6 linked regions of the Homo sapiens genome follow. The gene in region 5 interacts genetically with the main gene of each other region. Each region holds a gene or a part of one and is shown on either strand. Other genes may lie near its edges. The genes, in order: FUT8, SEC23IP, RAB5C, SEC24A, RICTOR and SEC24B.

Region 1 (3,446 bases), on a different chromosome or scaffold from region 5:
TCACCTGCTATCCAGTGAGCAGAGAGGGTATTCTTTGGACATAGGGACCTTTTAAGTAGCCTTAAAACTATAGTAATCAGGGTGATGCATTTCCTCAAAGGCTTGCCCAGTTTATGTCATCCAAGCATGCCACTCTCTACACAGCACACTTAAAACTTTTTAGAACAGAAATTGCCGATGTGTTTTAGCTCACTTGCCAGTGCTTGTTGATTGTCAGTAATTACATGAATCTCTCTTGAAAACAGTTCTGGGAGCGGGGAGGGATAGCATTTGGAGATATACCTAATGTTAAATGACGAGTTACTGGGTGCAGCACACCAACATGGCACATGTATACATATGTAACTAACCTGCACGTTGTGCACGTGTACCCTAAAACTTAAAGTATAATTTAAAAAAAAAGAAAACAGTTCTGACACCAAGTTATAAATTAGCAGATGAGAATGTGTGATTGATTAACAGTGTATGAAGGAAAGGGACCATCAGCATTTATTTGTGTTAAGTTTTTTTATCCTAATCCTAAACTTCAAATTCTTTAAGGGCACAAACTATGTCTTACTCATTTTGGTATCATGAGTGCCTAGCTTGGACCACTGTGTATGTAGCTCTTAATAAATGTTTGTTAAAATTAACTAATTCATATTCTTAAATTCTTTTGTACTATATAGAGATAGAGAGATTTTAATTGTAATAATCTTTCGTGAGTTTTTCTTCTTTATTTGAAAAAGGATCCAGACACAGAGATGAAGAATGACTTGTACCATCTTCTGAGAACAAATGGACTGAAAGCTTGTGACTAGAATCCACTACTTTTCAACCTCTTACTCCTAGAGCCCATCCTTTTGGCCAAGGGCTTTTAGATTGCTGTGAAGGAGAGTGTTTATATACTAACAATTTCTTTTAAATTCTTTCCCAAGGTCTGTCGAGTTGCTTATGAAATTATGCAAACACTACATCCTGATGCCTCTGCAAACTTCCATTCTTTAGATGACATCTACTATTTTGGGGGCCAGAATGCCCACAATCAAATTGCCATTTATGCTCACCAACCCCGAACTGCAGATGAAATTCCCATGGAACCTGGAGATATCATTGGTGTGGCTGGAAATCATTGGGATGGCTATTCTAAAGGTGTCAACAGGAAATTGGGAAGGACGGGCCTATATCCCTCCTACAAAGTTCGAGAGAAGATAGAAACGGTCAAGTACCCCACATATCCTGAGGCTGAGAAATAAAGCTCAGATGGAAGAGATAAACGACCAAACTCAGTTCGACCAAACTCAGTTCAAACCATTTCAGCCAAACTGTAGATGAAGAGGGCTCTGATCTAACAAAATAAGGTTATATGAGTAGATACTCTCAGCACCAAGAGCAGCTGGGAACTGACATAGGCTTCAATTGGTGGAATTCCTCTTTAACAAGGGCTGCAATGCCCTCATACCCATGCACAGTACAATAATGTACTCACATATAACATGCAAACAGGTTGTTTTCTACTTTGCCCCTTTCAGTATGTCCCCATAAGACAAACACTGCCATATTGTGTAATTTAAGTGACACAGACATTTTGTGTGAGACTTAAAACATGGTGCCTATATCTGAGAGACCTGTGTGAACTATTGAGAAGATCGGAACAGCTCCTTACTCTGAGGAAGTTGATTCTTATTTGATGGTGGTATTGTGACCACTGAATTCACTCCAGTCAACAGATTCAGAATGAGAATGGACGTTTGGTTTTTTTTTGTTTTTGTTTTTGTTTTTTCCTTTATAAGGTTGTCTGTTTTTTTTTTTTTAAATAATTGCATCAGTTCATTGACCTCATCATTAATAAGTGAAGAATACATCAGAAAATAAAATATTCACTCTCCATTAGAAAATTTTGTAAAACAATGCCATGAACAAATTCTTTAGTACTCAATGTTTCTGGACATTCTCTTTGATAACAAAAAATAAATTTTAAAAAGGAATTTTGTAAAGTTTCTAGAATTTTATATCATTGGATGATATGTTGATCAGCCTTATGTGGAAGAACTGTGATAAAAAGAGGAGCTTTTTAGTTTTTCAGCTTATTTACTTTGTTTTTTTTCCTGTTTCTGATATAGTAACTAATTCTTAACTCAGAGACATTGGTCCATTTTAATACTGAAAACCAATTTTCATTGGTACACATTACAAAATTGCTAAGAACACTGTTTGGGAGCTTTCATTCTCATATTTTGGACATTGTTTTAATTGAGTGAAATAATCATAACTCCTTGCTCCCAGAGAAGCTATCACCTCCATTTCTAAAACCATTTCAGGTTTGTTTGGTAGTCTTTCTTAATGTATTTATTATCGCTTTTTGTGAGTAGGGTCCTGTTTTATCCAGGAACCAATTTCTGCCCTAGCCTATCATGCCCTGCTTTTGAGAGTACCAGGTATCTTTGGGATTGGGAAGCTGGCTGTTTCAGAAGTATATGTCTCATAGTGTGCAGAACTTGGTGACCAAGTGAGAAGCGGGACCAATGGGAGACTCACAATGGACTGAGTCTTGGGATTATCTTTTCCAAATTCTTCCATGTTAGAATCACTTCAGAAAATAAGACTTTGATGCTTTGTCTCTGAGCATCATTTTTCTCCTCATAAAAACACTTCCTTATTGTATGTAGCCTGCCTCCTACAGAGGCCTGGTAGGTGTTACTGCATTCTAAAAGAAAAATGTCATCTCTGTAGGAGCGACTATCAGGCCTAGTGTGAAATATTAGGGATCCTAGGCAGAAGAGCTATTAGTCCTGGCCTTCATATCTTCACCAAATGAAAATACTGTATATAAAATTTCACCACCAAACTTAACTAAATTCTTTTTCTCAAGTCAAGCCTCCCAAAGAAAAAAGAAATTAACTTCCTACAGTGTCAGCAAGCAATTTTCCATTTAGTTTTGGTACAAATAAAAGTCATTTGAAACAATCTCCAACTGAGCGGAGGTAATTTTGATTATGAGTTATTTTGCAACTCGCATCTCACATGTCATTGGAACATCAGTAACTGTGGATCTGATTTGTGCCCTTATAGAAGATCCAAAGGTAAATTAAGTTAGTCTCTTTTCCTTCTAAATTGACCGAGTTCCAGGGGTGAAAGGACCAAAGAACAGAGATACGAAGGAAATAAATTAAGGAGTATTTCCCAAAGGGAGTCTTCAACTGAAGAGTTAATTTTTGACATTTTATCATTTGGTTCTAGAATTTCTCCCTAATTCTTTATATTTCTCTACTGAGATTTTTTTATTCACTACATGCATGTTTTCATTGAACATAACTATGTAGTGAATAAAACTATGAACCTTGAACATAACAGATGAACATAACTATGAACATAACCGAACAAAACATTGAACATAACTATATAGTGAATAAAAAAATTATTTGTTCTCAGTAGAGAACACATAAATAAAAAAATTATGTGTTCTC
Region 2 (4,284 bases), on a different chromosome or scaffold from region 5:
GACAGTAAGCACATGAAATCGTTATTGAATTAATAAACTTAGGTTCTATATATGTGTAAACAGCTGAGCAGAGTTTCATTATTTTGAGCGTTCTTTTGGTATCTCCTCTCCCAACCTCCAAGAAGCTGAAATATGGCTTAAGTTATATTTTCCTTCAAAATCTCTAACTATGAAAGATGACAATTATGTCCAAGTTATCCACAGTACCTCCTGGATTGAAGTAAGTCAGCTTACTGTGGATATAGAAAGCTATCTAAAATGTCAGATCTCTAATTTCAATGCCCTGGTTTCTTTTTTTTTCTTTTTTTTTTTTTTAAGGAGACAGGGTCTCGCTGCACAGTGAGTGGCAAGATCAGGGTTAATTTGGCCTCAAGCAATATTCCCGCCTCAGCCTCCTGAGTAGCTGGCAATATAGGTGCTATGCCACCAAGCCCGGCTAATTTTTGTATTTTTAGTAGAGACGGGGTTTCACCATGTTGGCCAGGTTGGTCTCAACCTTCTGGGCTCAAGCTATCCTCCCGCTCTGCCTCACAAAGTGCTGGGATTGCAGGCCTGCGCCATGGCGTCTGGTTTGATTTCTCTTTTAAATATTTTTTTTGGCCAGGCGTGGTGGTTCATGCCTATAATCCCAGCAGTTTGGGAGGCCAAGGCGGGCAGATCACGAGGTCAGGAGATTGAGACCATCCTGGCCAACCCGGTGAAACCTCGTCTTTACTAAAAATACAAAAAATTAGCCAGGCGTGGTGGCGGACGCCTGTAGTCCCAGCTACTCGGAGGCTGAGGCAGGAGAATCGCTTGAACCCGGGAGGCGGAGATTGCAATGAGCCCAGACTGCACCGCTGCACTCCAGCCTGGGCGACACAGCAGACTTGTCTCAAAACAAAAAACAAAACCAACCAAAAAAACAAAAAACAAATGCAAAACAAAAAACAACAAAAATAAAACGAAATATTTTTTTCTCCCTATGGATTAAACACTTAAAAAATGTTTTACCACTTCTATTTCTGGGTCAACCACAATGTTCGGTTCCATCCAGAAAGACAAGTGGGTTTTGGAGAGGGTGTTTGGTTCCGCCTAGCATGCGAATTCCCATTCCCGCACAACGCTCTTCCTCCCTTCCTCCTTCCGGTAGCGTCCAGCAGGATTCCGCTGTTCCTCCAAAATCTTTGTCAGGAGAGCCATCCTGACGGTACCTTTAGGAAGCCCATAGATACCCGCCACAACCTGTGACTTTCAGGGTCAATTGCGTCTCAATTCGCACGTCTATCCAGAACCTGCGGGGACCACGTCCCCATCCTCCCGCCCGGCCTCCGCCTCCGAGGGTGTCACGTGCTAGACGCGGGCGTGAAGACAGTGTCGCCATGTTGATATCTGGCGTCGCCGTGTAGGGGAAGGGAGAGGGCGGCTGACTAGCTACCCGTAATTTCGGCTCCTGTGCGCAAGTGCGGAAGTGCGCTGGCCAGGAGCGTGATCGGTTTCCGGTCAGTGGTGTGGTACCGGGTACCCGGAGACGTGTATCGGACGGTGGGCCGCAGCCATGGCCGAGAGAAAACCTAACGGTGGCAGCGGCGGCGCCTCCACTTCCTCATCGGGCACTAACTTACTTTTCTCCTCCTCGGCCACGGAGTTCAGCTTCAATGTGCCCTTCATCCCAGTCACCCAGGCCTCCGCTTCTCCGGCCTCCCTGCTCTTACCGGGAGGTAATAAGGGGAGGGCGGCCCCGTGTGTGGTGGGAGGCGGGCGGGGGACGTGCAATGACAAAGGTCAGACGGGAGTTTTTCCTTCTGCCTCGAGCTACCCTCTGGATAGCTTGCCAGGATCATTACTGGCCAGGTTTGAGTGGGTCGGGGGCTTTGGGATCTTGGAGGTGGCAGGTGATGAGACTTGCTCTTCACGGAAACCCCCTGTTCCGAGTTGTCCAGAGTGCTGGACATTCATTCGTACCCTGGCATTCCGCAAATCTTTGCTGAATACCCGTTGTTGGTACGCCAGGTGCTGGCAGGAAATGCAAATAAATTAAACAGTGGCCCTCTCCTAGGGTACAGTAGTCTGTCTCCCACTAGGAGACTCCTAGGATACGGTAAGATACCTCCTAGGATGGACTGTGCCCCTCTCCTAGGATACGGTACACTGTCTCCTACTAGGAGATTGTTGTGATACAGTACAATATCTTCTAGGTTACAGTAAGATATCTTATAAGATGGACTGTGCCCCTCTTCTAGAAGCCTGTAATATTTGTGAAGTAGACATATACAATGCATTCCTTATCTTTTTTTTTTTTTTTTTTTTTTTGAGACGGAGTCTTGCTCTGTCGCCCAGGCTGGAATGCAGTGGCGCGATCTCGGCTCACTGCAGCCTCCACCTTCCAGGTTCAAGTGATTCTCCTGCCTCAGCCTCCCGAGTAGCTGGGACTACAGGCGTCTGCCACCATGCCTGGCTAATTTTTGTATTTGTAGTAGAGACAGGGTTCCACCATGTTGGCCAGGATGGTCTCAATCTCCTGACCTCAAGTGATCCGCCTGCCCTGGCCTCCCAAAGTGCTGGGATTACAGGTTTAACCCCCCACCCATTCCTCATCTTTCAAGACAATACATCACTTCTTCCAAGAAGCTGTTTCTTGTTCTCTTAGGCCCCCACTCCTATGTGCACTCCTAGCTCTTTTTTCATATTTGTATTATTGTCCAGGGAGATTGCTTTTTGATGATTATGTAGCATTGCCCAGAGCATAGTGTTTAAGAGCACAGACTGTCTGTATTCCAGTCCTTGCCCTGCCAGTAACTTGCTGTGTGACTGTAGGCATTTTACTTTACCTCTCTGTGCTTCAGTTTCTATGTATGTGTAGCCTCACAGAATTGTAATTAGAAATGCTTTAATTTTTGCAAAGCGCTAAGTATAGTGCGTGCCAGACAGTGTGATTTAATGTTTGTGAAATAAACACACCTGCCTCTCCATTTGGACTGCAGTCTTCTTCAGCAGCTATGACCTAATTGCCTTTTTATCTCCAGGATCTTATTTAGGGCCTAGTACATAGATCCTCTTTGGATGCTGAGTTTCCAGTGAATAATTTATTCTTGTTTGAAGGATGAAAGACAGTTTCATGGAGAAGCGAAGACAGGCACACTGGGAACAGCTGTACATGAAGGTTCCCCTGCCCATGTGTTATGTTTCTTCTTGATGCTTGTCACTACCTGACATGTACACATATTTGTTTATTCCACTGCACTAGGATGTAAGACCATGAAAGCAAAAACTTACTTTTATTCACGATTATATTCCCACTGCCTAGAATGGTGTGTGGTATTTAGTAGACCAATTATTCAGTAGATGTTTGTTGAATGAGTGAAAGGATGGGAGTCAAAATGATGTCTCATTTTGACCTGTGGTTGAAAGGTTAGGTGTTGCTGTCTTTGGTGAAGAACCAGCATGGTTGGAGCAGAATGCTGTGGGAGGATGCAGGAATAAATAGGGCTATACTTGGGGTTTTCTAATTATCCTCTGCACCATTAAAGTTGTTTGGTTATGTCCGTCTTCCTTGCTATGTAGTGTTTGGTTTGTGTGTGTCACTGTGAATTCATGCTAAACGTTTTCATTGTTAAGTCTGGTATAGCTACACCTGTCTTTAATGCTTTTGTTTCTTGGAGACAGTCTGTGTGTGTGTGTGTGTGTGTGTGTGTGTGTGTGTGTGTGTGTGAATATTAATAATTTTAGAACTAAAATTCATCTCTAAAAATCTCAGAAACCCATTCAGAGAATTTCCAGAGACAAAAGAAGAACCTGTCTCCCTGGAAGCAACAGTTAATCATATAAGTGGAAGAGAGACACAGGAAGCAATTTCATACATTCAGCAGACATGGAAGGCCTGGCACAGTGGCTCACGCCTGTAATCCCAGCACTTTGTGGGGCTGAGGCGGGTGGATCACCTGAGGTCAGGAGTTCAAGACCAACCTGGCCAACATGGTGAAACCCCATCTCAACTAAAAACACAAAAGTTAGTTGGATGTGGTGGTGGGCGCCTGTAATCCCAGCTACTCGGGAGGCTGAGGCATGAGAATCGCTTGAGGAGGAGGTTGCAGTGAGCTGAGGTCATGTCACTGCACACTCCACCCTGGGCGACAGAGTGAGACTCCATCTCAAAAACAAAAACCAGACATGGATTGAGCAGTTTCTATTTGCCAGGCACTGTTCCAGAACCTGGGAGACACAGAAGAGCAGACAGCCCTGCCCTCAATGACTGCACAGTATGTGTGTATACACACACACCCACCTGTGTAAGCAACTGTGATA
Region 3 (3,255 bases), on a different chromosome or scaffold from region 5:
CCCATGCTGGTCTCGAACTCCTAAGCTCAAGTGATCTCCCGCCTCAGCCTGCAGAGTATTGGGATTACAGGTGTGTGCCACCACACCTGGCTGTTTTTTTTTTTTTTTTAAAGAGATGGGGCCTCACTCTTGCTCAGGCTGGAGTGCAGTGTTGCAATCACTGCAATCTTAAACTCCTGGGCTCAAACAATCCTCGTGCCTCAGCCTCCTGAGCAGCTGAGACTACAGGTGCGTGCCACCAAGCCCAGCTAATTTTTAAATCTTTTGCAGAGACAGAGTCTTACTGTGTCGCCTAGGCTGGTCTCGAACTCCTGGCCTCAAGTGATCCTCCCACTCCAGCCTCCCAAGGCACTGGGATTACAGACAGGAGCCATGTTAGGCCCATGCCTGAGGCACGAGAGGACAGCAGATGGAAGCTTCCCTGTTGCCTCCTAGCATGGCCCTTCCCAAAGCCCCTGAGCATCCCAGGCGAGGCCGGGGGGAGCTGCTTACTCCACTCCTTCCCCCAAGTCTGTCATCTCCCCACCTGGAATTCCACGGCTCTCTTGCTGGCCAGGTCTGCCTTGTTACCCGCGAGTGCAATGACGATGTTGGGGCTGGCCTGCCTCTGTAGCTCCTTCACCCAGTTCTTGGCCCGTGCAAATGTATCCTGAGGAGACAGGGACAGAATGTCGAAGGGACAGAGAAGGCATTCTGCCCAGGGCCACCCATTAGAGACTCTCAAGCTGGCACAGCCAAATTATCTAAGACATTGCCACCTAAAGATTCTGATGCAATGTCCCCAAACAGGAAATCTGCCCACCCCCCACCCAGGAACAGAGGGTTAAGCGGCCTGAAATCAGGGCTCTGATAACCCAATCCCTGGGACTTTGAGAAGATGAAGGGCAAAGGAAGAAGCAAGGGGAAATCTTTACTGTGTTGGTGATGTCATAGACCACGATGGCAGCCTGGGCCCCCCGATAGTACATGGGGGCCAGGCTGTGATACCGCTCCTGTCCAGCTGTGTCCCAGATCTCAAACTTGACTGTTGTGTCATCCAGGCAGACAGTCTGTGTGAGGAAGGCCGCTGTAAGAGAGAAGGAGCGTCCATGGGCAAGAGCGAGTTGGAATCCACCCCACACAATCCCACTGTTGCTTCTAGGCTCTGGCACTCAGAAGCCCACCACTGAGATGGGCACAGAGAACCCTCAAGCCAGGAGCCAAAGCAGGCCTGAGTGGGGGGTGGAGTTTGGATTTTTATGTATGTGTCTGGGGGACGGGGTCTGCACAGGCTTTGCAGACCCAGCCCAGGCAACGGCAGGAGAAGGGACTCCTGCATGCACTGAGCCATCTCAGGACCACTCTCTGAAGAGCAACACAGCAGGGGCAAGAGAGGGAAAGCCTAGGGGAAGCCTACTCCAAGCACAGAAGGGTGAGCGCCCTCAGACCTCCTCCTCCGCCACTCAGAGAACAGACCAGCAGCTAGGGACCGCTCCACCCCTCAGTTTGCTCCAGCCCAGGGGTGTCACTGACCTTGGGTTTCCTAAGGACATTCTCACACACTTAGCTATGCTGGGGAAGTACACACTGTTCCACCACCAGGCTGAGGCTGGGTGGCCGGCTTCCCAACCACCCCTACCACCTCCAGGCACTCCAGCTAGCCACCGCCCCTAGCTCTGACCCAGACCTGTTCCTGTATGGCCACCCTGTGACCTGACCTTCAGTCACTAAGAGGTGACTCCTTAGGGGAATGCAGGGTGCCTGTACACATGCTTCAAAGGAGGAGTCCAGAGCTGGGACAGACAGCAAAAGGCCCCTTTGCCCCTGGACCCAGCAGAGAACCCAGGACAGCCATGTGTAGAAGGCTGCTTTCCTGGTCTGCCCTCCCCCAGCTCACTGAGGGACATGGGGCACTGCCTCACTTCCCCTCTCCAGCTCCTGACCCAAATGCTGAGGAGGCAGCAGGGAGACTGCTGACATGGCCCATTTTGTTTCCAGCTGCCTAGAAACCTCCTACCAAGAGAGTAGAGAAAGGATGACTCAAGGCCAAGGCCAGCGTTGGCCCCTGCCTCTTGATGTGTGTGTTAGCCACGGAGGCAAGAGGCCGAGGCCAGACCCTCACTCACATCCTAAATGCTGACCACTGGAAAATCAACAACAGGCTGTGAGCTCCAGAAAGGGTAAAGTCAGCTTCAGAAACACCCACCTATCACCCAGCTCCGACTCACCAGGCTGTTCCTTCTTCTGGAAGTGGGAAAGGCCAGGGCACATGGACCACCCATTATAGTAAGAAGGGGCCTCAAAGATCCAGAGTCAGCTCTCCCTCCATGAGGCCAGGGCAGTGAAAGGGCCTCAGCCAAGGCCACACAGATCAAGAAGGGGCAGAAACAGGATGGGAAGCTAGCTTTCCACTCCCAGCAAATGCTTACTAGCGATGCTTGAGGGGACTCTGGCATGGAGACCAGTTGCTGGGCTCAATTCCAGGGCCCAGGTGAGGAAGTGGGGCTGCCACCACAGACGCATTTAGTCCCTAATGCAGGCAGGCAGCTTCCCATCTCCTCAAGGTCAAAGCATTTCTTTGGCAACCTTCAGGCCCCTCCCCGACTCCCTCATGCCCACTCACCTCCAATTGTGCTCTCCTGGTACTCGTGAAACTGTCCCTTGACAAAGCGGAGGACGAGGCTGGATTTGCCTACCGCAGACTCCCCCAGCAGAACCAGCTTAAATTGACAGATCTTGTTCCCAGCAGCTGGTCCATTGGGTCGTGCTGCGCCTCCCCGACCCGCCATTGCCCGTCCAGCTGTAGTGGTCCAGAGAGCGTGCGGGTGGGGACTGGTGCTATGCAAAGAGGCACTTAGTGGGGAGGGGGACCTCCAACTGTAAGGGAGAAATGAGAAGTACTGAGTTAGTTCAGAGGCCGTCACCCGCTGTGTCCTTCTTAAATTACAGATCTTTCCCTCTGGCCTCACTGAAGACCTAGCTGACTGCTTCCCCTCACCTCACCTCCCTGCCCTCCCCACTAGAGGTCAGGAGGCCCCACTGGGCTATACTAGATGTCTACCGGCTCTACCACCATCTGAGCTGTAAAGAGGAGAATGGTCTCCCAACTTCAGGCTCATGGTTCTGAGCAAACACATTGACTTCTGGATCCCAAATATGTACATTCACCTACAAATAAACACACACAGGCGATGAATGAATGTGTGACAGCCTGGTGACAGTTAAGTCAACAGGCTTTTGGGGCAAAATTAAAACAAAACAAAACAAAACAAAAGC
Region 4 (3,313 bases), about 96 Mb from region 5:
TTTGGGATTACAGGCATGAGCCACCACACCTGGACTTTTTTTTTTTTTTTTAGATGGAGTTTTGCTCTTGTTCCCCAAGCTGGAGTGCAATGGCACGATCTGGGATCACTGCAACCTCGGCCAGGGTTCAAGCGATTCTCCTGCCTCAGCCTCCCAAGTAGCTGGGATTACAGGCATGCGCCACCATGCCTGGCTAAGTTTTTGTACTTTTAGTAGAAATGGGGTTTCACCATATTGGCCAGGCTGGTCTCGAACTCCTGACCTCAGGTGATCCACCTGCCTTGGCCTCCCAAAGTGCTAGGATTACAGGCGTGAGCCACCACGCCCAGCCTACTTTTAAAAACTATTTTGTAGAGACAAGTTTTCGCCACCTGGCCCAGACAGGTCTTCAACTCCAGGCCTCAAGTGATCCTTACACCTGGGCCTCCCAAACTGCTGGGATTACAGGTGTGGGCCACCATACCAGGCTCATATCACTTTAAATAACTAGTCACTATATATAAGCTCTTTTCAATTAACTTTATTGAATAGCCAAGTTGATAAGTTAGCATAGATCAAACAATGGTCTGCATGGGTTACAAATGACTTTTTTTTTTTTTTAACAGGAATAAAACAGTGAAAATTACAAACTGTAAAAAGGAAGACAAATCTTGTCTCCAACTTTTCAGAGAAGCAAGATTTAACACAGCACATTGAAGATCAATACATATTTGAATTTAAGAACAAGAATTTAATATTACAATATTATACACTACTTTACAAAATTAAAATTTCTATATAAGGATTACATTTGTAATAGTTAACAAAATTTTGAAATCACATTTGGTGGTCCCCTAGATAATAGCTGTTATGCATCTTTGATTAGAAGAAATAAATCTTTATTCTAATTATTGCAAAACAGTCTATTAGACTCAATACATTAAATTAAAAACAGTGAAAATATATGCAAACTAAAATAAATGGTACTGCTTGAGTGACTATTAGTATGTCAGACTTACAGAAATGTTATTTTAAAAATCCTAGAAATTAGAAAAATAGAGTACTTTTTATGGTAGAACTGCCATGCTCAGATTTAAATACCAAGATTGCCCTTGTCTGTTACATTAGTAGTTGTAGATCTGTAGAAAATTCAAGGATCTTTCATAATTTACAACTATAATTAAAAAAAATATGGCATAGTGTAAATATTAGTCGCTTTACATCAAAAAGTAATACAAGATGATATGGCAGGTAGTGCCCTATTGGGGGAAAAAAAAAGAATCAAACTAAAAAACACATTCAACATTGCAAAAAATAATTGCCTTATATCAGTATCTCCAAAGGCTCATTCATTCTCTCATTATGTGGAGAACAAATATTGTGAATCCTAACTAAAGTTATGTTTTTCATGACCTGTTATAAAATTATTCTGAATTGCACATGTTACACCGTATCTAAAATAATATTTAAAAGTAAATTTGTGAAATATACTAAAAAAGCATGTGGTAATAACAAGAGTCATACCCACTTAGGGATGTAGTGAGGCACAAGGAAGATTATCCCTAAAAGCACAAATGTTTCCCTCTAGAAGATTCTTTACTACTAAGAAAGGACCTACAAATAACTCCATTTAAAATCACATTAAGAGGAACATTTTAGTTATTTTAAGAAACATCAGCATATAACGACTGTTTCTTTAAAAGAGGGGATAATATAATTCGCTACAATTTGAAAATTGCTTCTTAATAGATGAAGCAGCTTTCAAGAAAACTTCCAGTTCAATGTGCCACTTACACACTGCAAACCAACCTTAACACTGCTTAAGGGAGATATTTTCATAAAACATGATTATTTTGATCCAGCTGGCAAGCAGTAGTTGTATACTGTAGAGGGACTGCTTCTTCCCTATCCCAAACAACTCAGTTAAAGTCAGCTCATATTGATATAAACCTGGAAGTTACTATTCCATTGGTGATCATATAAGACCAAGATTGTAAACATTTTCTAACCCATTAAAACAAAACAAAAAACCCAAAAATATTTTGATCAAGTATTATACATGAACATATTTAAGAAATTCTTAAGACAAAATGAATCTGTGAAAACTGAGCCAAACTCTTAAAGATACTATGTCACAGCACTTTAAATATACAAATGTATAATTTACCTATTTGTAAACAAAATTCACTCAATAGTTTTGACTATAATATTTCTCTAGCTGAATCAAGAAAGCAGTCTCTTAAGGATTTTCAGAAGTCAAGTTTCTTTCATAACTTTAATATGTTGGATGTGTATAATCTTAATATCCACCAAATCAAACAGCAGCATTTATGCTTTCATAGATTTTCATATTCAAGCATAAATATTTCTTATGAATGACTTCCAATTTAACAATTAAACTCCTTAGAAAAATGTTACTGATGTATTTGGATAGCACTTTAGAAACCTTTCATTTCTTCACTCATTTCACCAAAAACCCCCACTTTTATTATATACCCAGAGCAGAAATGCACCAAATAAAATCCACTTAAAGGATCAAGATAATTAAAGTTTCTTATCTCCCTATTATCATTGCTAGTCCCAGTGTTTATGAAGACAGCTCAAATTCTTTTCACTATAGATTAAGACAGTATGTCCAACTCTTCATCAGGAAATCAGAAAACCACCTAATGATAGTTCTCACTTCAAATCAAAGTGACTTTGTTCTTCAAGCATAAAGAATACTGACAGATTTTAAAGCTTGAATGTGTTTCTTCATATTTTTCTCAAGCTATACTAGAATTAGTTTAGTTTTAGTCAACATGATCCTTTCCCTTAACAAAGAAAAAAAAAAGACACGTGTGGGGAATGAATTCTAGTTTTCCTACATTATATTTACTTTCCATTGTTTTTATTTTAAAAACATCACTACCAATCAATTTGTAACTTCCCTGCAACACTTAGGTTTGTGAGGTTTTAAATGTAGCAGCCAAAGATTCAGAAAAATTAAAAATGAGAAATATACATGTAGAACACAGAAATCTTTATTTTACAAAATGTACTTTGCCTCTGCAATATTCTTATTTTAATCCATAACAACTCAAACATAATTGGCAAGAAAAAAGTATCCAATCATACGTAGCTATATTCTGATTTGAAAAATACAGTATTTCAGAGTTGCATGTTTGATTCTCTGCTGTGGTCTTTTATTTGCTATAGGTTGTTGAAATCACAGTGAGAACATCTCAATCATCACATTAGTCCACAAACATAATAGAAAAAGAAGGTATTACACATTTCCAGGTATTCTGCACTATCGTGACATTCCTTAAAAATAAGTCAAATTTCTTCATTC
Region 5 (3,500 bases):
GAATTAGAATACCAAAAAGAAATTTGGAAAAGTAAACCAGAGAACTTTAGTCATCACTAGGTTTTTCTGAAGGTGGGACGTGATCACTTACCTGAATGACTACATATTGCACTCAGTTGGTTGCTGGGCTGGAAACCCAGAATTTCAATACAGACACAATAAAGGCAGTTATCATCTGTATGTTCCTGTAGTCCAGTGTCTTCTGTACTTTCTAAAAACAGAGAGGCATCTGAATGGATTGAATTCATTATTTCCGTAAGACTCATCTGCTGTCGTAGCAAGTGAAAAGAATTTTTTACAAGACCTCCAGTTCCAGATGGAAGACCTGTGCATAAGTAAATATAAAACATAATCCAATAAAGATAATACTTTTCAAGGTACCTTAAATTATGTGAAATTTTAAAGAAAGCTTAAGCACATTTTATGACTCAAAATCTAACTGGAAAGAAAAAAAGAATAATTTGCTTTAAGTTATAAAAATAAGGAAAGCCAGCAGATGTTTATTATTTTAATATATAGTGTTTTAAATACAAAATGGAAAATTGAGATTATATAATACATCATTTCAATTATCGTCAATATTTGCCTAAAGATATGTAATAATTCTAAGTATAAAGAGGCATTTGTTTAAAAAGTCATTAAGAATATAAAGCTATAAAACCTGTGGCTTATATTTACATATTAAAATATAACAGTTCAAAACAAAGACCGTGTATTTTATAAGTACATTTCTTTCTCCTTACTCTAAACAAACAGCTATTTCCTGGATCTATGAGGATTAGTGTTATACATTGTTCATGTGCTACTTTTAAAAAACAGAAACAACTAATTTGGTTTCTATTTCCTTGAAAGGTTGAGTACTTCACTGAAAACACTGTTAAGTCCCTCACACATACACAAAAATGTGGTTTAATTTTAAGCTGACTTTAACAATTGTTTTGGTATAATTTTAAAGTTGATCCAAAAGTGAGTCTTCCTAAATTTTTAGTGTTATCCTACTAGAAAGAACTAAGAGTTTTCTTTTTAATATAAAGAGGCATCTCACAAGTACAATGCACAATGCATTACCTCCTGCATCATGGGCAAATGCTCTTGCACCTCGATCATCATGTGGTGGTATGTTTTTTGTCTGAAAATAGGGAATATCCTTTACCTAAAAAAAGATATAAACCATGGTAAGTCCTGCTATAAAAATAAGCCCACTTTATGAAAATTAGCAAAATTAAACAAAATAAAATTAAAATAGAATTACCATAGCATATGAACCTATAATCAAGTTTACTGAAGGTTCAACTACCAAAACTTAACAAAATAACCCAAAAAGTCCTTATTATATTATTAGTGACTAAATGGACATTAATTATTTTAGCGTTTATCTAAAATGTCTTTCAACTTCTAAGAAAATGTGTTCTTTAGTACTATATACCATCTAGAGATCTGTGGGTATCTCCTGGGATTAGGGTCACCTTATATTACTGGGTACCACATATGGCTGGCTACCTTTTATGGGATAAATAGGAATGAGGATTTAAAAATGAGGTATAAGTTAAATGTGACTAAAAAACAAGTTAGAAATTTCATAAATTTCTACAGAGAATATATGGATAAAGAAATCAAATGAGATACTGATTTAATATGGGAAGAGAGGGAAGGATAATGTTCTAAGGACTAAATAAAAGAGTACAGAGTAGTTGAAAAGGGCAAAATAATTTTAATCTTAAAGTTTCTTTAAACAAAACGGTCTTAAAAATCATGCTGCCCCAAACTGGTGCCCACCCTAAATTATGATTTCTAGTAAGCAGTTACAGCATATGAAAAAATAGGAAACCAACTCATAGGAAAACAATAAAATGTATGATAATACCTGGAATATATCATTTATATCCACCGGGAGAGCAAGACCAATGTAATCATCTGAACCCCCATATGTGGCACTGGACACCATGGACCGCACTGAGGAAGATCGTTGCAGGGTATTTTGATTAATAGGACTCAATAAATCTTCTTTATCTAATGATGCATAACTTAAGGCTTTCATGAACCTATAAAACCATAAAGAAACCACTTGCATTAGTTTCTTGATCTGTAATTTTAATCATATGAAGAAATAACATATATTCCTACCTTCATAAAAGACAAGTAGCTAGTCATGTATTAAGCAGTGTCATCTTGTTTACTGGCAACACATAAACACTTTAAAATATTAGCTGTTATAGACCGCTATGTAAAAGGTCACCAGTAATGTTGACTGTTACCAAAAACAACTGTTATGGTCTCTCAGGTAAAGGTGAAAAGGTGGGCAATTAGAATAACTTTCAACATCTAGAAGTAAAAAAAGAAACTGACCTCAGTAGTCAGAGCATGGTCCAAGGACTATCTTCATAATCACTTGAGACTACTAGATTTGGCATTTATGTAACTAAGGATATGTGTATCAACTCTATTTAATATTATATTTATAAAAAATGAGATCAATTACATATCATTATTTGTGTGATAATTACCTTAATGCCTTCATTATCAACATAAGATTTATGTAGCACACAAGACAGACACAAGAGCAAAATGGTCATTTATGACGAGATATCCTTGTAAAAAGCACTGATATTTCCACAATGTACTGATATTTCCACAATGTACTCCTTACTACTAGAGATTCCATAACAAATATGATACACTGATATTTCCATAAGATACATGTTTCTCATACAGATTCTTACTTATGCAACAGACATGCTAAAATATTTACTTGGTATCTGCTGTATATATACAAGGCACTATGCAAGGTTCCACATTTATATACATTTATATGAAGATATTTTTGTTTGGAAAACCAAGTCTTTAAAATGTACGAATGCAGCCTAATATTAAATCAAATAATTATTTTGTAAAACACACAAAAGAAATGCTTTCTAAATAGTAGCTATTAACATAGCAAAAACCATGCTCCTAATTTCCACCCAAAAAACACTCTTTCAAACTGTAATCTGTTACATTTCTTTGGTTCCCATAAAACTCTTCAAGGATTACTGGAGTGGGAGGAAAACAATTATTGGATTATTCCCCTTCCCAATTCCTATTTCAACCAGTATAGGTCCCTTTCTATCTATTCTACCTATTGGGTTTCCACAGAAATCTTTATGTGAAAAAATAATTTCTCTGCTTAAAAAACAACAATACAAAAGTTTACAACCACTGATCTAGTGCAATCTCCACCAGATGAGGTAACTGAGGCTTAGGAATGTTCAAAATTCATGAACTTTACTGCATAGATTTGTAACAGTGAGCTGTTGAGAACTTTCCCTGGCTTTGTCCTGGACAAGGTTGCCAAAGCTAGTGAGTTCCAGATAGATGAGACATTGCTGCATAATTTCTTAAATCCTGTAAGGGTACACAATTCATTGTCTGCTACCAAGAAACCCTCTATTAAATGTGTTAAGCATTATTGAAACAAAACTGCTTAATGTTATTAAGAATAATGTAAGGGCTAGATGGATTAC
Region 6 (3,500 bases), on a different chromosome or scaffold from region 5:
TATAGCTGAAGTTCTAACTTCCTCCCTTAAGATTCCCTATTACTTTAACCAAAAAGAATTGTTTCCTCTTCAAAACTCTGGGCACCCTTCTCACAGGCCTTATGAAGGAAACACATGTTCAGTGCTGACAGTCCTCTCCTCTTTTACTGAGGGGTACAGAACTCCTGGAGTGCAGAGAACATTCACATTTGTATGCCCAGAGTATCTAGCACAAAATGTTATGTAAAGAGGAGCTACATAAATATTTGCTAGGAATTGTAAATTAAATTTATAGGCCAGGCATGGTGGTTCATGCCTGTAATCCCAGCACTCTGGGAGGCAGAGGTTGGAGGGTCACTTGAGCCTAGGAGTTTGAGACCATCCCAGGCAACACAGTGAGATCTCGTCTCTAAAATAAAAGTTATATATAACTGTTAGGATTACATATGCATTGCATAAAATAAGGTTCAGGTGTTTAAGATCAAAATTGATGGTAAATGAGATAATCGGAGGGACAAAGTTCTTAAAAGAGAGGGAACAGAATTCTGTACCCAAATAATCTGAATTTGTCTCAGATAACACAAGAATAATATGCAGGAAGACTGACAGATTTGGTGGCAGAAGATTAATACTTTATCTTCAGATTGTCAGATTGCTTTCAATTTCTTAGTAAAATAAGTAAGGTCACCATTGGAAAGGGAGGCAGAGAGACAGGATACTGAGAATTTGAGGGAAAAGGGGAGCATGTGACACTGGGAATGGAGCAGGGAAATACCACAGGACTAACTGGTACTGAGAGCTCACTTAAGAGATATTACCATAAATATAAAGTTGGAGAAACTTCAAGGAAAATAAAGCATCAACATTGGATTATTCTAATATTACAATACAGCCATTTTATAGGGAAAAAAACATTTGACATAAAAAGGTTACCAAACCTAGTAAAAATGTGCAAAATTGATAAATGAGTAATATAAACATACAGGAAAACACAAAAATAAAGCAAGTTACCTGAATAAGATTGTAACAGTCATGATTTCCACCATACTACAATTATTGTTTAAAAAGAAAAAAATGAAGAGAGAAAACAAAAACCACATCTCTAATTTGACTACTCCTGAGATTTCCATAATAGCATGATCATTCCCCCTCCCTGAGACACATTTTAATATTAAAAATAGTTGTTTCATTAATATTTTCCTGAATTGAATTCCAACTTTTTTTTTCAGTCAGATCAAAGTCAGATTTCAGTTTCCATTATCTGAACACAAACATCAAGGTCAGCAAAGTACAAGTTCCTTTATCCTACTAAGATAAATTCATACTAACTTTGAGGTAGAATCAGATCGAAGAATGTAATCACTGAATTCATTCATCACTCAATTACAAAGAAATAGGCCAATATTCAGTCAGTATGCACCCAGGTATTCATTTTAACAATTATCTTTGTTAAAATGTTAAAATAGCTCTGAATCAGTTGGTAATGAGTCATAGCCATGGTCCTATTCCCCTGCTTTACCCCACCATGCTAGCCCAAACCTTCTCATAATCCGCAGCTGAAGGAGTAATGCCTGGCACAGCTGAAAGCTTATAGGATCCTGCTCTGGTATGAAGGATGGTATCCATTTAGTGGTCAGTATACACAGTACTGATTACTGAATATTTTAATATACTCTCCCTGCCAATAAGGTATCACTAACAATGCCAAAATACAGATTTTTAATGGGCATAAAAAATGTGCATGCTTGCACACCCACACACCCCTAAGGCAATAGGCAATTACAAACCTTGGTGATTTCAAAAATGAGGAGTCTCAGATTACATCTGGATATCCTAGGTTATCATAATGCAAGGATAACAGTTATAGAGCTTCTTCCCAAGCTCTGAGAGAAATGTTTTCTTGTATTCTTTCTCTCCTACATTCCATAAACTGCAAATATACCTGAGGATGAAGGTAACTGTTCCAGTCACCGCTGGCGGACAGAGCCTACAGACACAGGCTATGTAAACAACTGGATTAAATCTCACTGCATTAAGTATAGATTATTCCTGCTACAACATCAATTATCCTTCTTGGATACCACGACAATGAGTGCTATGAGTGAGGGGCCAAAAGACAACCAAGGCCACACATGGTGGCTCACGCTGTAATCCCAGCACTCTGGGAGGCCAAGGTAGGAGAATCACTTGAGCCTGGGCAACATGGTGAAACCCCATCTCTACAAAAAATACAAAAATTAGCTGGGCATAGTGGCATGCCCCTGTAGTCCTAGCTACTCAGGAGGCTGAAGTGGGAGAATCACCTTAACCCGGGGAGGTCAAGACTGCAGTGAGCTGTGATCATATCACTGCACTCCAGCCTGGGTGACAAAGTGAGGCCCTGTCTCAAAATACAGAAAGAAAAGAAAATCAATATTGGTTCAGAATCTACTACATGCCAGATACCTTGCTTTTCTACATATAATCTGATATGCTTCTCAAACAATTCTGTGAAGTATCACTATCATCTTTTATATACAAATAAACAGGGCCATGAAAGCCCACTAATTCATACGAATTCAAATCGTTGGTAAGGAGCAAAGAAGCCAGGCATTGCTGGTTCCAAAGCCAGGCTTATACCTCATTTCACAATATCCATTAATCAGAAATCCTAAGGAAAACAAGTTAAGACTTGGCCACTGGCTAGGCAAGACATGATTTTACCACTCCCTCTCGCTACTTCATCCTGCTTTTCCTCAGTTCCTGTTACAAATGACTTCTGGCACACAATTTTAGAAAACTTAAAACCCATTAAACTTACCTTTCCATAAGCAAACTAGCTAAAATAGATGGCCTATTACCAGAAACCTTCCAAGAATGCATTTGCGGACATAAGGGATGGAGGACTGGAAAGCAGAAGAAAATAAAGAGAAGACTAAAATAGTGATTGAGCCTTAAATACAAAAAAGGGGAGAGGGAGCTGGCACACAGACTCCTGTCAGTGGCCAGTCTTCAAAAGCAATAACGAATAGGAAACCAAGTTCACTTAACTGAGTGCCTATTACAAGCTGCTACTACTGGGCATATGATGAAGAAAACTCATATGGTTTCTGCCACCTGAAGAATTTATAAAACGGTGTTCTGAAGAAAATGGAAGGGAGGGACTCTAATTGCTAAGCTCCTTCTAGGGCTAAGTACTTTAAAAATAGTACCTTATTAAATGTAGTTCTATAAACAACTCTGTAAGAAAGGTATTATTATACTCTGAAGCATGTTAAGTAAGTTTCTCCACAAAAATTTGGGCTATATCAAAGCCTACAACCTTTTCACTAGTCCACTCCTTCTGGACAATTCTGAGTATGCTCAGCCTATTGAAAATAGTAGCTTCTCCAGGGCTGAATATATATAACATGATCTTTTCTAACAATGCTGACAATGAAGATGCCTCATTTCTAGGAAAGAAAATTATTCTAATACCTTTAGCATAAAATACTTCAGGAATTACAGATGAATTGGAAAGATAAAGTAACATGAAATACTAG

The links.
Region 1: changes in RICTOR (region 5) and FUT8 together harm fitness less than expected from each alone (positive genetic interaction), as found in Homo sapiens cells (one large-scale study listed by BioGRID).
Region 2: changes in RICTOR (region 5) and SEC23IP together harm fitness more than expected from each alone (negative genetic interaction), as found in Homo sapiens cells (one large-scale study listed by BioGRID).
Region 3: changes in RICTOR (region 5) and RAB5C together harm fitness less than expected from each alone (positive genetic interaction), as found in Homo sapiens cells (one large-scale study listed by BioGRID).
Region 4: changes in RICTOR (region 5) and SEC24A together harm fitness less than expected from each alone (positive genetic interaction), as found in Homo sapiens cells (one large-scale study listed by BioGRID).
Region 6: changes in RICTOR (region 5) and SEC24B together harm fitness less than expected from each alone (positive genetic interaction), as found in Homo sapiens cells (one large-scale study listed by BioGRID).

What each region holds. Positions count from the first base shown.
Region 1 is NC_000014.9:65,741,176-65,744,621, forward strand, and holds the end of FUT8 (alpha-(1,6)-fucosyltransferase), read left to right. Parts: intron 1-917; coding exon 918-1,235; 3' UTR 1,236-2,946; downstream 2,947-3,446. UniProt on the Homo sapiens protein: Catalyzes the addition of fucose in alpha 1-6 linkage to the first GlcNAc residue, next to the peptide chains in N-glycans.
Region 2 is NC_000010.11:119,891,246-119,895,529, forward strand, and holds the start of SEC23IP (SEC23-interacting protein), read left to right. Parts: upstream 1-1,484; 5' UTR 1,485-1,537; coding exon 1,538-1,700; intron 1,701-4,284. UniProt on the Homo sapiens protein: Plays a role in the organization of endoplasmic reticulum exit sites. Specifically binds to phosphatidylinositol 3-phosphate (PI(3)P), phosphatidylinositol 4-phosphate (PI(4)P) and phosphatidylinositol 5-phosphate (PI(5)P).
Region 3 is NC_000017.11:42,127,735-42,130,989, forward strand, and holds part of RAB5C (ras-related protein Rab-5C), read right to left. Parts: intron 2,857-3,255; coding exon of another isoform or gene 2,769-2,856; coding exon 2,603-2,768; intron 1,067-2,602; coding exon 915-1,066; intron 650-914; coding exon 527-649; intron 1-526. UniProt on the Homo sapiens protein: The small GTPases Rab are key regulators of intracellular membrane trafficking, from the formation of transport vesicles to their fusion with membranes.
Region 4 is NC_000005.10:134,725,097-134,728,409, reverse strand, and holds the end of SEC24A (protein transport protein Sec24A), read right to left. Parts: 3' UTR 501-3,313; downstream 1-500. UniProt on the Homo sapiens protein: Component of the coat protein complex II (COPII) which promotes the formation of transport vesicles from the endoplasmic reticulum (ER).
Region 5 is NC_000005.10:38,945,400-38,948,899, forward strand, and holds part of RICTOR (rapamycin-insensitive companion of mTOR), read right to left. Parts: intron 2,043-3,500; coding exon 1,865-2,042; intron 1,154-1,864; coding exon 1,069-1,153; intron 326-1,068; coding exon 92-325; exon of another isoform or gene 1-91. UniProt on the Homo sapiens protein: Component of the mechanistic target of rapamycin complex 2 (mTORC2), which transduces signals from growth factors to pathways involved in proliferation, cytoskeletal organization, lipogenesis and anabolic output.
Region 6 is NC_000004.12:109,440,315-109,443,814, reverse strand, and holds part of SEC24B (protein transport protein Sec24B), read right to left. Parts: intron 1-3,500. UniProt on the Homo sapiens protein: Component of the coat protein complex II (COPII) which promotes the formation of transport vesicles from the endoplasmic reticulum (ER).